Linked DNA regions of Homo sapiens. The protein of the gene in region 3 interacts with the protein of the main gene of each other region in a biochemical or structural test. Each region holds a gene or a part of one and is shown on either strand. Other genes may lie near its edges.

Evidence for each region.
Region 1: of the proteins of BIRC2 (region 3) and FBXO7, one has a biochemical effect on the other in vitro, tested with the Homo sapiens proteins (one study listed by BioGRID).
Region 2: of the proteins of BIRC2 (region 3) and MAP3K3, one has a biochemical effect on the other in vitro, tested with the Homo sapiens proteins (one study listed by BioGRID).
Region 4: the proteins of BIRC2 (region 3) and PACS2 form a complex in vitro, tested with the Homo sapiens proteins (one study listed by BioGRID).

Annotation. Positions count from the first base shown.
Region 1 is NC_000022.11:32,481,311-32,484,810, reverse strand, and holds part of FBXO7 (F-box only protein 7), read right to left. Parts: intron 915-3,500; coding exon 687-914; intron 1-686. UniProt on the Homo sapiens protein: Substrate recognition component of a SCF (SKP1-CUL1-F-box protein) E3 ubiquitin-protein ligase complex which mediates the ubiquitination and subsequent proteasomal degradation of target proteins and plays a role in several biological processes such as cell cycle, cell proliferation, or maintenance of chromosome stability.
Region 2 is NC_000017.11:63,681,417-63,684,916, reverse strand, and holds part of MAP3K3 (mitogen-activated protein kinase kinase kinase 3), read right to left. Parts: intron 3,152-3,500; coding exon 3,018-3,151; intron 2,582-3,017; exon of another isoform or gene 2,159-2,581; intron 1-2,158. UniProt on the Homo sapiens protein: Component of a protein kinase signal transduction cascade. Mediates activation of the NF-kappa-B, AP1 and DDIT3 transcriptional regulators.
Region 3 is NC_000011.10:102,371,214-102,374,713, reverse strand, and holds part of BIRC2 (baculoviral IAP repeat-containing protein 2), read right to left. Parts: intron 1-3,500. UniProt on the Homo sapiens protein: Multi-functional protein which regulates not only caspases and apoptosis, but also modulates inflammatory signaling and immunity, mitogenic kinase signaling, and cell proliferation, as well as cell invasion and metastasis.
Region 4 is NC_000014.9:105,380,748-105,384,247, reverse strand, and holds part of PACS2 (phosphofurin acidic cluster sorting protein 2), read right to left. Parts: intron 3,295-3,500; coding exon of another isoform or gene 3,292-3,294; coding exon 3,149-3,291; intron 2,335-3,148; coding exon 2,190-2,334; intron 1,772-2,189; coding exon 1,667-1,771; intron 1,442-1,666; coding exon 1,335-1,441; intron 890-1,334; coding exon 735-889; intron 1-734. UniProt on the Homo sapiens protein: Multifunctional sorting protein that controls the endoplasmic reticulum (ER)-mitochondria communication, including the apposition of mitochondria with the ER and ER homeostasis.

The sequences.
Region 1 (3,500 bases), on a different chromosome or scaffold from region 3:
TCTCTCTCTTCAAAGACTCACTTCTCTCCTAGCAAAGCCATATGATTATTTAAAACTCCGGCTCAAATATCACTTCCTCCGTAAAGCCTTTTTCAAAGAAAAATTGTTTGCCATTTCCTTTCATCCCCTAGCATTCTATTCATATTTCCATTACACTTCAATTGTATTATTATCTATGTTTACCTGTGTTATTTCTGAGTATCTTTTTATTCATCTCTCTCCTCTATGTATGGACTCCTTGAAGACAAGAAATATCCCAATATTTTTATATCCTAATTTCTAGGTCAGTGCATGGCATGCTGCAGGTGTGCACTGATCACCGAACTACTCTGTATCTTTGTAACTTATAACATGGCTCACAGACCAGCAACATTGGTATTATGCAGGAGTATGAAGAAGTTCACGGTCCATTCTACAGTTACTAAATCAGAATCTGCATTTTAATAAGGTCCCCAGGTATTCCAAAGCGCATTAAAGTTTGAGAAGCAATATTCTAAATGTTCTCCTCCATGAATTCCTGGCATCCTATATATGAGTATGTTTCTCCCAGAACTTCACCAATATAGCACAGTGCTTTATATTTTTGTCTCTCTCTGCCACTCTCAGACTACGGGCAACTTGAGAGCAGGAACCATCCACATGTATGAGCAATCATAAGATGTCTGTGTTTTGCTTGCAGTACTTACCTGAGGTATGTAACCTGACTCCAACATGAGAAGATGTATCAACACTATCAAGGCATCATTGGCATCAGAACAGTCAGCTGATTGATACAAGGTCTCTAATGAATGTGGCACTTGCCCTTCCACCGATTCACTACAGAGCATGGGTTCTGAGGGATAGAAACCTGTGCCCTCTGCCATATGCGCATTATCTTGAATTGACTCAGCTTCAAAATTTTGACTAGGCCCTAACTGAAAAAGGAAAACAAAACAATGAATTAATTAAAGACTTATTTTTACACTATACATTTTTGTATCCTAAAGTGAACTAAGTGCTGAAAGTCAAAGTACATCATTGGGTTCAGAAATGGGAGACATTTTAAGTGAGTCCTTACAAATAAATAAGCCTGCGACCTACTCTTCCATCCTGAATTCCTTACCTCTGTTAATTCTAGCTGGTATGTCAAGAACCTGGAAATCATCCTAGACTCCTCCCTCCCTAACTAAACCTTGTTCCACATCTGATCAGTCTTCAAAGTTCCCTGAAACTAACTCCTAAATATGTCTAAAATTTGCCCCTTCCTGCTCTATTGGCACTTCAAACTCTCATCATTTATTTCCCGACATCCAGCAAGAGCTTCCGTTGCAAGTATCCCTTCTTCAACTTTCTTGTCTTCCAATACACCCCAGTCCCTGCTGCCAGAATTTTCTTGACAATTAAAAATCTGATCATGTACTATGTCGCAGCTTAAAATTCACCAGTACCTCCCCAACATAAACAGCATTTCCCTCAATTGTGCCTTAGATGTTCTTAGGAAAAAAGGTGGTGCACACGGAATAAGTGTGGAAAATACTGCATGCTGCAGCCACCTAACTTCACCCTCCATATTCACAAAATACACTATTCGCATTATATAAGCACTGAGGAGTCTAATAACAATAATAGTGTGTGCCTAACACTTTACCAAAAAACACTATCCTCCGTCCTCAGCAGTCAACATCCCTGTGACACCATCTCATGAAACTAGATTTTCAGAGGACACTGAGAAATGCAGGTCTACAAATGAAGACCAAACTTCTAAATCCCTTAGCATACAAAGTCCTTCATTACCTGATCTCTGACTCATTATCAAGTTCACTTTCTGCCAGTGCCTTCTTACTCATCCCAGTATTTTCCACTTCTTCAAAAGAGGTAACACAGACCACAACTCTGCCTTGCAACGGGCTTGATTACTGCACCTTATCACACTGCACTGTATTGCAATTTTCTGATTACATATCTGCATCCTTCCATGACTGCAAGTTTATAAAAAACCAGACTACATGTCACCCATTTTTGTAACCCCAGTAAAGTACCTAGCACATAGCAGGTATTCAATGTTTGCTGAACAAATGCTGAAGGATAATACCTTACAACTTCATAATGTCTTTATTTTCAAAATGTTTTCTTATTTGCACTTTATAACAATCCTATAAAATAGGCATGGCAGGTATCGCCTTTTTATAGATCCTATAATTATAAATCAGAAAGATTAAATAACATAATCAAGGTTACCAGCTAATAAAAATTTGAAACGAACCCAGATCTCTAAACTTGCAGTTCAGGGCTTTGAGATGTAATACATGGCTTCAAAAAAAACTAAGTTACCTATATTAAGTTTGCTCAGAAAGCTTGTTTCCTAGGCATATGCCCAACTCTTAATGCAAAGCATACGTTTCGTCTTTTTAGGGTTTGTTTAAAGAAGGGGCAAAGGAAATTAAAATTACACAGTATATGTAAAAGGTTGGAGAAATGGAGGGGAGCCGGAGGTGACAGCTGTTCTTCCAAAATCTCTGAGGACCTAAGCCCTAGGGCTTATGGAAAAGATCCAAAGTCACCTGTTAAAACCTAAAGGCCAATGACAAGTCACATTACCCAAAAAGGAGGTATGGCACAAAAATATTTCCATATTTCCTAAGAAAACAGAAACAACTACATTAAAAACCACTTAACATCAAGCTAAACTATGAAACATAGGTTTTGCTTCTTTACCACTATGTCTAACTTTTGGCCATTTACTACTTATTGGCAGTTGTGTGGGACAGAATATATGAGGAAAAATGAAAAAGGGTACCCTAGGCTGAGTACATGAGAGGGAGATATCAAAATCCCCTGCTGGGCTTGTCAAGCCTTACTACTACTCCATAAGAACCACTGACATTCTCTGAGCTATTCTGATATGAATATTTATCAAATTCTTCACATGTGTAAAAATGAAAAAAAAAAGGTGAGCACCACACCTCTCTAAACAGATCATTTTGCCATATGTCATTTACAAAAGACTAAAACAAGTGACTAAGATGCATGAGAGCTAATATTAGGTTCTGATACCTGCTACCCGTTTCTCATTAAAGACTCAAGAGGCACTCGATGAATTCCCAAATATGATGAAATAAGAAAACTGATATTTAATTACAAGAGTAAATTTACCTCCTATGGTTTCAAGTTTTACGCATCTATTTTCCTTTTCTAATGCTCCATTCTACATTACAGAGTGTGATGTACTTGAAAGCATTATTTATGAGATCTTGAGCTCAGTTTCCATACTCTAAAGATTTTCCTGTCACCCTTTACAAGTCTTGGAATACAAAACAATATGCAAAATCTTAGAACTGAAATTAGTAACTTCAGGCAACATTAATTTCTCAAAATTTTCCAAAAGGAAACTAGCAAACTATCACAAATACTGTGAAAAGCTTCATCTTACTAGACAACTTTAAAAGTACACAGAAGTAAAAGTAATGGCCCCTACTAAGTCATCCCAGAACAAGTCTATCAGCAAAAAAGACTCAGAAATA
Region 2 (3,500 bases), on a different chromosome or scaffold from region 3:
AATCCCTTTTTCTCCAATCAATGTCCTGAAGGTCCTCCCTTTCATTTTCTCTGCACAAAAGTTGGGGTGGGGTCTTCAATTTCAGAATATTCATTATCCGAGCTCCAACATTAAACATTACATAGGGGCCAGACTTGGTGGCTCATGCCTGTAATCCTAGCACTTTGGGAGCCGAGAGGGAAGGATCACTTGCACTCAGGAGTTCAAGACCAGCCTGGGCAACATAGTGAGATCTTGTTTCTGTTTAAATATTTTTTTAATTAATTTTAAAAAATTACATAGGGAAACAAAGTATCAGAATTATGAAAATTCACTAACGACCTCCATAAAATTAGTTTCCAACTCAAATATTTTTTCCCATTTAATACCAGGGTCCATCCCCACCCATAATTTCAAATGCTTTAAGTCATGTTGTCACACATGATTTTTTAAAATCTGCCAATCAAGGCAAATTAATTGCAAAGTAAAACTGCAAATGTTGCTAAGGATATAGGATAGCCAAAGTGGATGAAACCAACATCGGAGAGAATTGCTTTAAATCCATCAGATGCATATTTGGCAAATTTAGACTAGTTAACAGAAAAAGACAAAATGGACAAATAAATAACATGGCAGGTGTGGTGGAGGAAGAATACCAAAGATTCACAAGAGGCCTTGGGGAAAACTGCTGAGTCCTGTGAACGCTCTTGTAAAAAATGACGTTCTTTATGGTTAGAAGTCAAGCAGGGAGTGAAGGACGTTACATTGTGCTAGCATTTTGTTGTTGGTGCTGTTGTTCGAGACAGGGTCTCATTCTGTCACCTAAGCTGGAGTGCAATTCACTGCAGCCTGGGCTCAAGTGATCCTCCCACCTCAGCCTCCCGAGTAGCTGGGACTACAGGCAGGTGTGCCACTATGCCCAGCTAATTAAATTTTTTTTTTTTGTAGAGACAGGGTTTTGCTATGTTGCCCAGGCTGGTCTTGAACTCCTGACCTCAAGCAATCCTCCTGCCTTGGCCTCCCAAAGTGCTGGGATTACAGCTATGAGCCACTGCGACCGGACTGACATAATTTTTGTTGGAAAAATTAGGCCAAAAAATTAACATGAATCATGCTTTGCTCATTCTAAAAATTAGTAAATAGATGCAATTATTGCTTAAACCTGATTAAAGAAAAAACAAAACTTATCATATTTTCACTTTTCAGTAAAGTCACACTGGAATATTCTTTTATTACATACTATGCAGTGTTCGTTCCTGTTAAGCAGATTGATCTCAAATGGCCTGTTACCAGGAGCAATTCTCTTCAGCTAAAGAGGCAGGCGCTGGGGGAGGACCTTGGCAATCCCCAACCACTGCCTTCCTTGGCCTCTTTCTAAAAGTCTGTCCTCACTGGGAGTCAAATCCTCCCAGGCCTTCCAGGGCCATGCAGGCAAAGTAAAAAAGTGAAGGGGGCAGAGTATAGGACCATGGCGAGGGACATAGACTGAGGGCAATCAAGCTCATCTGCAATCTCTGGGATTTTACACCCAAGTCACCCCTAGAACAGCTGATGTCCAGAAGTGCCCTGGTTAGAGAAACCAGAAAGGATGGTCAGTAAAATGCCCAAAAAGGAAATCTGCAGCTAATGGCACTCCAGGTCACTACTCCAAACATGAATTTATCTGGAAGGCAGGAGTATAGAAGGAAGAAGAGTACAAAGGGCTTCTCATAGCCTACATAGTTTGAATAATGAAAGAAAAGTTACAAGAATCAGCTTTTTATAAGATCTCCCATGTGACAGCACAGGCCCTTCTGTTGGACATTTTCCCCTTAAGAAATTTCCCCTTCTCAGGCCAAGCCCAGAAAGTGTAAGAGCAGCCTTTTCTTTTACATCAAAGCAAGTTTATTGAAAAGACCAGAATGAAGCTAGAGATCTCATGCTTGGTGAGTTCACTAAGCCAAATTGCCATTTGCATCAAGTAAGCCACCAATTTAAAAGCTAGCCACTAAAATGGCTGAGCCACTGTGGTAGACACACCCTAAGGTGATTGCTCCCTCTTCCAATTAGTCCCAATGAACTGCCTTTCCCTTTAGTGCAAGTAGAACCTGTGACGTGAGTCTAGCCAATAGACTATGGCAAAGAGGATAGAATATTCATTCCTATGATTATGTGATGTTTTATGACTCCATCTTTGCAGATTGGAGCAAAAGATTCTCCTGCTGGCTTTGAAGAAGCTGCCATGTTGTGAGAGGGCCCCATGGCAAGGAACTGCAGGTGGCCTCTAGGAAGGGAACTCAGAGAAGCCCTTGGGTGACATTCAGAAGAAAAGAGGAACCACAGTCCTACAGCCACAAAAAAACTGAATTCTGGCAACAACCATCTGAGCTTAGAAAAGAGCCTCAAACTCAAGAAAGGCAGGCAGCCTGGCTGACACCTTGATCGCAGTCTTGTGTGACCCTCAGCAGAGGACCCATTTGAGTCATGCCTGGACTCCTCACCCAGGGAAACTGGAAAATGATAAATGTATATTGTTTTAAGCCTCTAGGTTTGTGGTAATTTGTTATGGAGCAATAGATAACTAATACAACTGTCTACCATCATAAATGATCAGCCTAACCAATCCTACAGTGTAATTTTGATATGGTTTACTCCTTACCTTTCATCAAGAAACAGCAAAACTAAAATATATCCAATGAAAAACATAACCTGTCACTTTAGAACCAGTCGTATGTTAAAACACTACTGAAATGAGCTGGGCGTGGTGGTGCCTGCCTGTAGGAACAATGAGAGGACCACGATGAAGAAAAATCTGTTAAATCCTCACCCAACAACAAGGAAACTATGTAGTTTAGATCCTTTAGATCCCATCTTTGGCAGAAATTGTTATTTGGCCCTTAAAAAGGGACAATCCATATTTGGGCAGGCCTGGTTTATAAAAGAGCTTTCAAATGGGGTTCATGTCCCTCAGTTCTGCACTGTGACTACTAAGAACCCCTTGTTATGAGCTTGGTCTGCTGATACAGGCCACAGGCATATCCCAGCCCCCCTATACTCACGCACTGCTCGCTGGTCTCTGGGATGAACTCCCCCTCACTGTTGATGCTGGTGTAGGACCCCTGCCGGGCAATGTGCTGCTGCCGCTCAGGAACATAGCCAGGGGGAGGTGAGCTTCGGCCAGGGTTCTGGGAGCCTAGAGCACATAAAGGAGGCTTTCAACAACAGAGCCCAGGGTGTGTGGCCCAAGAGGAGCAGGCATGGGGCCAACTATTAGGCCCTAGAGGTCAGGAATGTGACTCAGATGGGTCATGGCACCAACGTCCAGCATGTGCCAGCTCCCTCAGGCAAACAAAGTCCCTTCCTAATAGGAAACAAACTCCAGAGATGGAGCAGGCACTACGGCATATCCGACCAAAAAAACCTTGACACAAAACAGAAACCAGAATAACCCCTAGGAGACCATTTTAGCTGGCAATCAGACTAGCTTTTAAAAAAATTCTTATATATAATTACTCCTTCATAATGTCACCTTCTCTCTTCCT
Region 3 (3,500 bases):
GCCAGGAACTCGAACTGGGTGGAGCCCACCACAGCTCAAGGAGGCCTGCCTGCCTCTGTAGGCTCCACCTCTGGGGGCAGGGCACAGACAAACAAAAAGACAGCAGTAACCTCTGCAGACTTAAGTGTCCCTGTCTGACAGCTTTGAAGAGAGCAGTGGTTCTCCCAGCACGCAGCTGGAGATCTGAGAACCGGCAGACTGCCTCCTCAAGTGGGTCCCTGACCCCTGACCCCCGAGCAGCCTAACTGGGAGGCACCCCCCAGCAGGGGCACACTGACACCTCACACGGCAGGGTATTCCAACAGACCTGCAGCTGAGGGTCCTGTCTGTTAGAAGGAAAACTAACAAACAGAAAGGACATCCACACCGAAAACCCATCTGTACATCACCATCATCAAAGACCAAAAATAGATAAAACCACAAAGATGGGGGAAAAACAGAACAGAAAAGCTGGAAACTCTAAAACGCAGAGCGCCTCTCCTCTTCCAAAGGAACGCAGTTCCTCACCAGCAACGGAACAAAGCTGGATGGAGAATGACTTTGATGAGCTGAGAGAAGAAGGCTTCAGACGATCAAATTACTCTGAGCTACAGGAGGACATTCAAACCAAAGGCAAAGAAGTTGAAAACTTTGAAAAAAATTTAGAAGAATGTATAACTAGAATAACCAATACAGAGAAGTGCTTAAAGGAGCTGATGGAGCTGAAAACCAAGGCTCGAGAACTACGTGAAGAATGCAGAAGCCTCAGGAGCCGATGCGATCAACTGGAAGAAAGGGTATCAGCAATGGAAGATGAAATGAATGAAATGAAGCGAGAAGGGAAGTTTAGAGAAAAAAGAATAAAAAGAAATGAGCAAAGCCTCCAAGAAATATGGGATTATGTGAAAAGACCAAATCTACGTCTGATTGGTGTACCTGAAAGTGATGGGGAGATTGGAACCAAGTTGGAAAACACTCTGCAGGATATTATCCAGGAGAACTTCCCCAATCTAGCAAGGCAGGCCAACGTTCAGATTCAGGAAATATAGAGAACGCCACAAAGATACTCCTCGAGAAGAGCAACTCCAAGACACATAATTGTCAGATTCACCAAAGTTGAAATGAAGGAAAAAATGTTAAGGGCAGCCAGAGAGAAAGGTCGGGTTACCCTCAAAGGGAAGCCCATCAGACTAACAACGGATCTCTCGGCAGAAACCCTACAAGCCAGAAGAGAGTGGGGGCCAATATTCAACATTCTTAAAGAAAAGAATTTTCAACCCAGAATTTCATATCCAGCCAAACTAAGCTTCATAAGTGAAGGAGAAATAAAATACTTCACAGACAAGCAAATGGTGAGAGATTTTGTCACCACCAGGCCTGCCCTAAAAGAGCTCCGGAAGGAAGCACTAAACATGGAAAGGAACAACCGGTACCAGCAGCTGCAAAATCATGCCAAAATGTAAAGACCATTGAGACTAGGAAGAAACTGCATCAACTAACGAGCAAAATCACCAGCTAACATCATAATGACAGGATCAAATTCACACATGACAATATTAACTTTAAATGTAAATGGACTAAATGCTCCAATTAAAAGACACAGACTGGCAAATTGGATAAAGAGTCAAGACCCATCAGTGTGCTGTATTCAGGAAACCCATCTCACGTGCAGAGACACACATAGGCTCAAAATAAAAGGATGGAGGAAGATCTACCAAGCAAATGGAAAACAAAAAGAGGCAGGGGTTGCAATCCTAGTCTCTGATAAAACGGACTTTAAACCAACAAAGATCAAAAGAGACAAAGAAGGCCATTACATAATGGTAAAGGGATCAATTCAACAAGAAGAGCTAACTATCCTAAATATATATGCACCCAATACAGGAGCACCCAGATTCATAAAGCAAGTCCTGAGTGACCTACAAAGAGACTTAGACTCCCACACATTAATAATGGGAGACTTTAACACCCCACTGTCAACATTAGACAGATCAACGAGACAGAAAGTCAACAAGGATACCCAGGAATTGAACTCAGCTCTGCACCAAGTGGACCTAATAGACATCTACAGAACTCTCCACCCCAAATCAACAGAATATACATTTTTTTCAGCACCACACCACACCTATTCCAAAATTGACCACATAGTTGGAAGTAAAGCTCTCCTCAGCAAATGTAAAAGAACAGAAATTATAACAAACTATCTCTCAGACCACAGTGCAATCAAACTAGAACTCAGGATTAAGAAACACTCAAAATCACTCAACTACATGGACACTGAACAACCTGCTCCTGAATGACTACTGGGTACATAACGAAATGAAGGCAGAAATAAAGATGTTCTTTGAAACCAATGAGAACAAACACACAACATACCAGAATCTCTGGGACACATTCAAAGCAGTGTGTAGAGGGAAATTTATAGCATTAAATGCCCTCAAGAGAAAGCAGGAAAGATCTAAAATTGACACCCTAATATCACAATTAAAAGAACTAGAGAAGCAAGAGCAAACACATTCAAAAGCTAGCAGAAGGCAGGAAATAACTAAGATCAGAGCAGAACTGAAGGAAATAGAGACACAAAAAAACCCTTCAAAAAATCAATGAATCCGGGAGCTGGTTTTTTGAAAAGATCAACAAAATAGATAGACCGCTAGCAAGACTAATAAAGAAGAAAAGAGAGAAGAATCAAATAGACGCAATAAAAAATGATAAAGGGGATATCACCACTGATCCCACAGAAATACAAACTACCATCAGAGAATACTACAAACACCTCTACACAAATAAACTAGAAAATCTAGAAGAAATGGATAAATTCCTCAACACATACACTCTCCCAAGACTAAACCAGGAAGAAGCTGAATCTCTGAATAGACCAATAACAGGATCTGAAATTGTGGCAATAATCAATAGCTTACCAACCAAAAAGAGTCCAGGACCAGATGGATTCACAGCGGAATTCTACCAGAGGTACAAGGAGGAACTGGTACCATTCCTTCTGAAACTATTCCAATCAATAGAAAAAGAGGGAATCCTCCCTAACTCATTTTATGAGGCCAGCATCATTCTGATACCAAAGCCGGGCAGAGACACAACAAAAAAAGAGAATTTTAGACCAATATCCTTGATGAACATTGATGCAAAAATCCTCAATAAAATACTGGCAAAACGAATCCAGCAGCATATCAAAAAGCTTATCCACCATGATCAAGTGGGCTTCATCCCTGGGATGCAAGGCTGGTTCAATATACGCAAATCAATAAATGTAATCCAGCATATAAACAGAGCCAAAGACAAAAACCACATGATTATCTCAATAGATGCAGAAAAAGCCTTTGACAAAATTCAACAACCCTTCATGCTAAAAACTCTCAATAAATTAGGTATTGATGGGACCTATTTCAAAATAATAAGAGCTATCTATGACAAACCCACAGCCAATATCATACTGAATGGGCAAAAACTGGAAGCATTCCCTTTGAAAACGGGCACAAGACAGGGATGCCCTCTCTCACCAC
Region 4 (3,500 bases), on a different chromosome or scaffold from region 3:
CCTTCCAGACAAGCCCACTTTCCTGCCACCGAAAGAGAAAGCCACCACTGCCCCTCCCTGGTGGATGCCTGTGGCCCCGCTGAAGGAGCTCCAGCCCTGAGCTGAGGTCCCAGAGCCCTGAGTGCCACTGAGGAAGGCCCAGCAGGGCACATGTGACCGTGCAGAGGCCTCGGCTGGCTCAGGGCTCTGACGTCGGCATCGTGAGGGCCACACGGGAGAGGTGTCGCCTCCAGGCCTTGCTGCTGGTCAACAGATTAAGGCTGGGTGGGTTTGTTTCGTGGTAAGACACATCGTATGGACCTAAAGAAGTAATGGAGTTCGACGACACAGGACCTGGACGATTTGAGAGGATTAATAACGAGCCCTGCTTTGCACTTCTGACTTTGGAAATCGAAACTGGCATAGAGTTATCACAGCGACTGATGGAGGAGACACCCAGCTCAGGCCCCTTCAGAGGGCGATGGCTTTATCTTGACCCAAATGGCTGTTTTAGGGCAATCAAGTTATCTTGCATATAATTAAAATTAACAAAGTGTTACTGTATCAAACAAACATTTAAAAACAACAAATGTGTAGCAAGCAGGGACACCACGCCATGCCACACCGCGCCACACCACGACACACCGCGCCACGCCACGCCACACAACACGCCACGCCACGCCACACCACTCCATGCCACGCCACACTGCCCGTGGCATCTGTGCCCAGGCCCAGGTGGACGGCGTGGTGCTCACCCAGTGGGATGACCAGGAAGCGCATGTAGCCGAGCCAGTCGGGTGTCTTGTGGGACAGCTGCTCCACAAAGAGCCGCAGGATGGCACTGAGGTAATGCTGCGCTCCCGCCACGGCGATCTTCACGGGGGTCGGGGGCTGGGAATTGCAGTTGCAGCTGCAATCCAGAGGCAGGTGGGACGGAGAGGGGACAGACGCCTCAGGGGAGCCGTCCTCCATCCAAGGATGCCAGTGTGAGCCCAGGGGGCTCCGTGCCTGTGGCCGCTCATGCCACAACTGCCCTGGAGCTGCCCAAGCCCAGGACCCCCACATGCCCAAACGTGCCCAGGCTGAGGGACCACACAGTCATGGCCTCAGCCCAGGCTTCCAAGGACAGGCCAGGAGGCCACCACTCCAGTGTGGCAGGACACCCACCAGGCTGCTGCTCCCGCCCACAACTGAGGGGAGGCCAGGCTGCGAAGAGCGCATGGGTCAGCCTCTGTGGACACCAGCCACAGCCCCAGGTCCAGGACGCACCTAGCCCCGGAGCAATGGGCAGAGGTGGGGGTGCAGGGACCCCGAGGGGTACTTGGGTGGTGAGTACAGGGTGGAGCCCAACTCACTATCTCTGTATCCGTGAGACGATGGTGCTGAAGGCCGCCTGGACGTCCGCAGGAGAGCACGTGCACACCACGGGGAGCGTGTGCCTCTGCAGGACGTCGGAGAGGAACTGGCAGAAGACAGGCAGACGCTGACTTCGGCACAGCCGCCCAGGCCACCCCCAGCACCTGACCCTCACCAAAGCTCTCAGGGGCTCCAGAGACCCCAGGCACGTCCAGGCAAACCACAGCCAGCAGCTCCAGCACCCAGGTGTGCCGGGTAGGGGGCAGCTTCAGGAACCCACTCTCCTCTGTCCTACACCCTGACCCTCCACTCCAAGAGACTGCCCCTCTACCTGCCCCTGCCAGTCCGAGGTGTTGACAAGGATGATGTTTTCGGGAAGCTGGTCATCGGAGATGAGGATGTGGTTGAGCTGGTCATACACAGTCTTCCTGGGGATCTGGAGGCACAGAGCCCTGTCCACACCCAGAAGAGAAGCACAGCGCCCATCCCCACCACGCCAGCCCTGGTGCCTGCAGTGCCCCTGCTCCCCCTGCAGCCACAGAGGCTCGGTGGCAGGAAGAGAGCTGGCCAGCTTGGAGAACTGCCCTGGGCTAAATCAGCCAAGCAATGAGGCTGCCCTGGACCAGGGAGGGCAGCAGAAGGACTAGAACTTGCCCTGGGGTCCACATGGTCTTCCTGACAAACCAACCCATGGCCCGCCCGCCCTGCTGTGTAGCAGGAGCCCTCCAAAGCCCAGGCATGCTCTGTGGCCCAGCACCCTTGGCCCCCTGTGCTTCTCTTTTTGCCCTGCTCTGGTTGGTGCCAGGGTGACCACGAGCCCTGCCTCCTGGGCGTGCCACGCCCTCCACCCCCACCTGCAGCTGCACCTGTAGCTGGCTCCGGGCGTCCGGGCAGCGCTCGTTGTCCAGGCTGTTGGCCCGCTCATTCTGGGGCCGTGCTGCCTGCCGCTCCTTCAAGGATGTGCTCCGGCCCCGTCGGCCAGCCTGCTTCCCCTCGGACCTATTGGGGACCAGGACAGGCTAAGTGGCTGTGGCAGCAGGAACAGGAACAGGGGCAGAGGCAGGGGCAGGCCTGCAGTGGCCTACACATTGTGGTGGGGACAGGGAAGGGTGAGCACAGGGCTGACTGATGGGCAGTGGGAACATGGGCTGCACAGAGAGGTCACCAGCCCTGGGAGGGCCACAGCAGCAGCTGAGTACAAGTGAGGCCGTGCCTCCGATGGGACCCCACACAGCTCTGCCTGTGAGACTTCGAGCCAGGCCAGGAGGCTTGGAGCCACCGTGAGGACTGAGCTCACCCTCCCTGCCCGGGCCAAGAGCTGGGCAGAGCCAGGTGCAGGCCAGTGCAGGGCACTGAGGCTGCCAGGGCGACCTGGCTCCAAAGCGCGGACACAGGCACCTGCGTGCCACCACAAGGTAAAAACCAGTGCCCAGACTCGCTGCTTTGGAAAAAGTCCCAAATATCACAGAAACATGAAATTGAAATCCTGGAAGAATCAAGCTGGTGTATGTGTGTCTTTTGGCTGAGGCAGGGGCTACTCAGGGGGATGTGGGGGCACCTGCTGGAGGGCAGACCCGCCTGACCCTGCCCTCAAACAGGTAGGGTGGAATCTGGGGCTGCAGGCTTGACACCCAATGCCGGGCCAGGGGGTTTGCTTCTCCTTTTTAAGAAGGACGAGGCCCTGAATCTGCTGTCTACACCCGAGGGAGCTCATCAGGATGGACTGACACGCACCCACCCCGACTGATGCCCGTGACGGCCCCTCCCCCGACAGGTGCATCACCGCCCCGCCCCGCCGTGCAGCCCCCATCACCTGGTGGAGGGGATGACAAGGGACTCTGTCTTGGTGATCCTCCCGCTGGGCGGCAGCCTCTCCGTGAACACATCCAGGGTGGAGGCCTCAGCCTCGGGGCTGTCCTCAGGCTGTCCAGGGTGCTCCCTCGGGCCTGGCACACCCTGCTGAGCAGAGACGGGCCTGGAGCCTCCCGTGGAAACCACACCCGTGCTGCGGCCTCTCCAGCCCTGTGGCCTCTGGCTCGGGTGAGGGTTTAGGCCTCTCTAGGCCGTGGCTCCTACATGTGGACCCGGCCATACGCTGACCAGGGAGCCTAGCTGAGCCAAATTCCAAGCACAGGGCTCCCATCCGGGCCATGCAGGGTGACCAG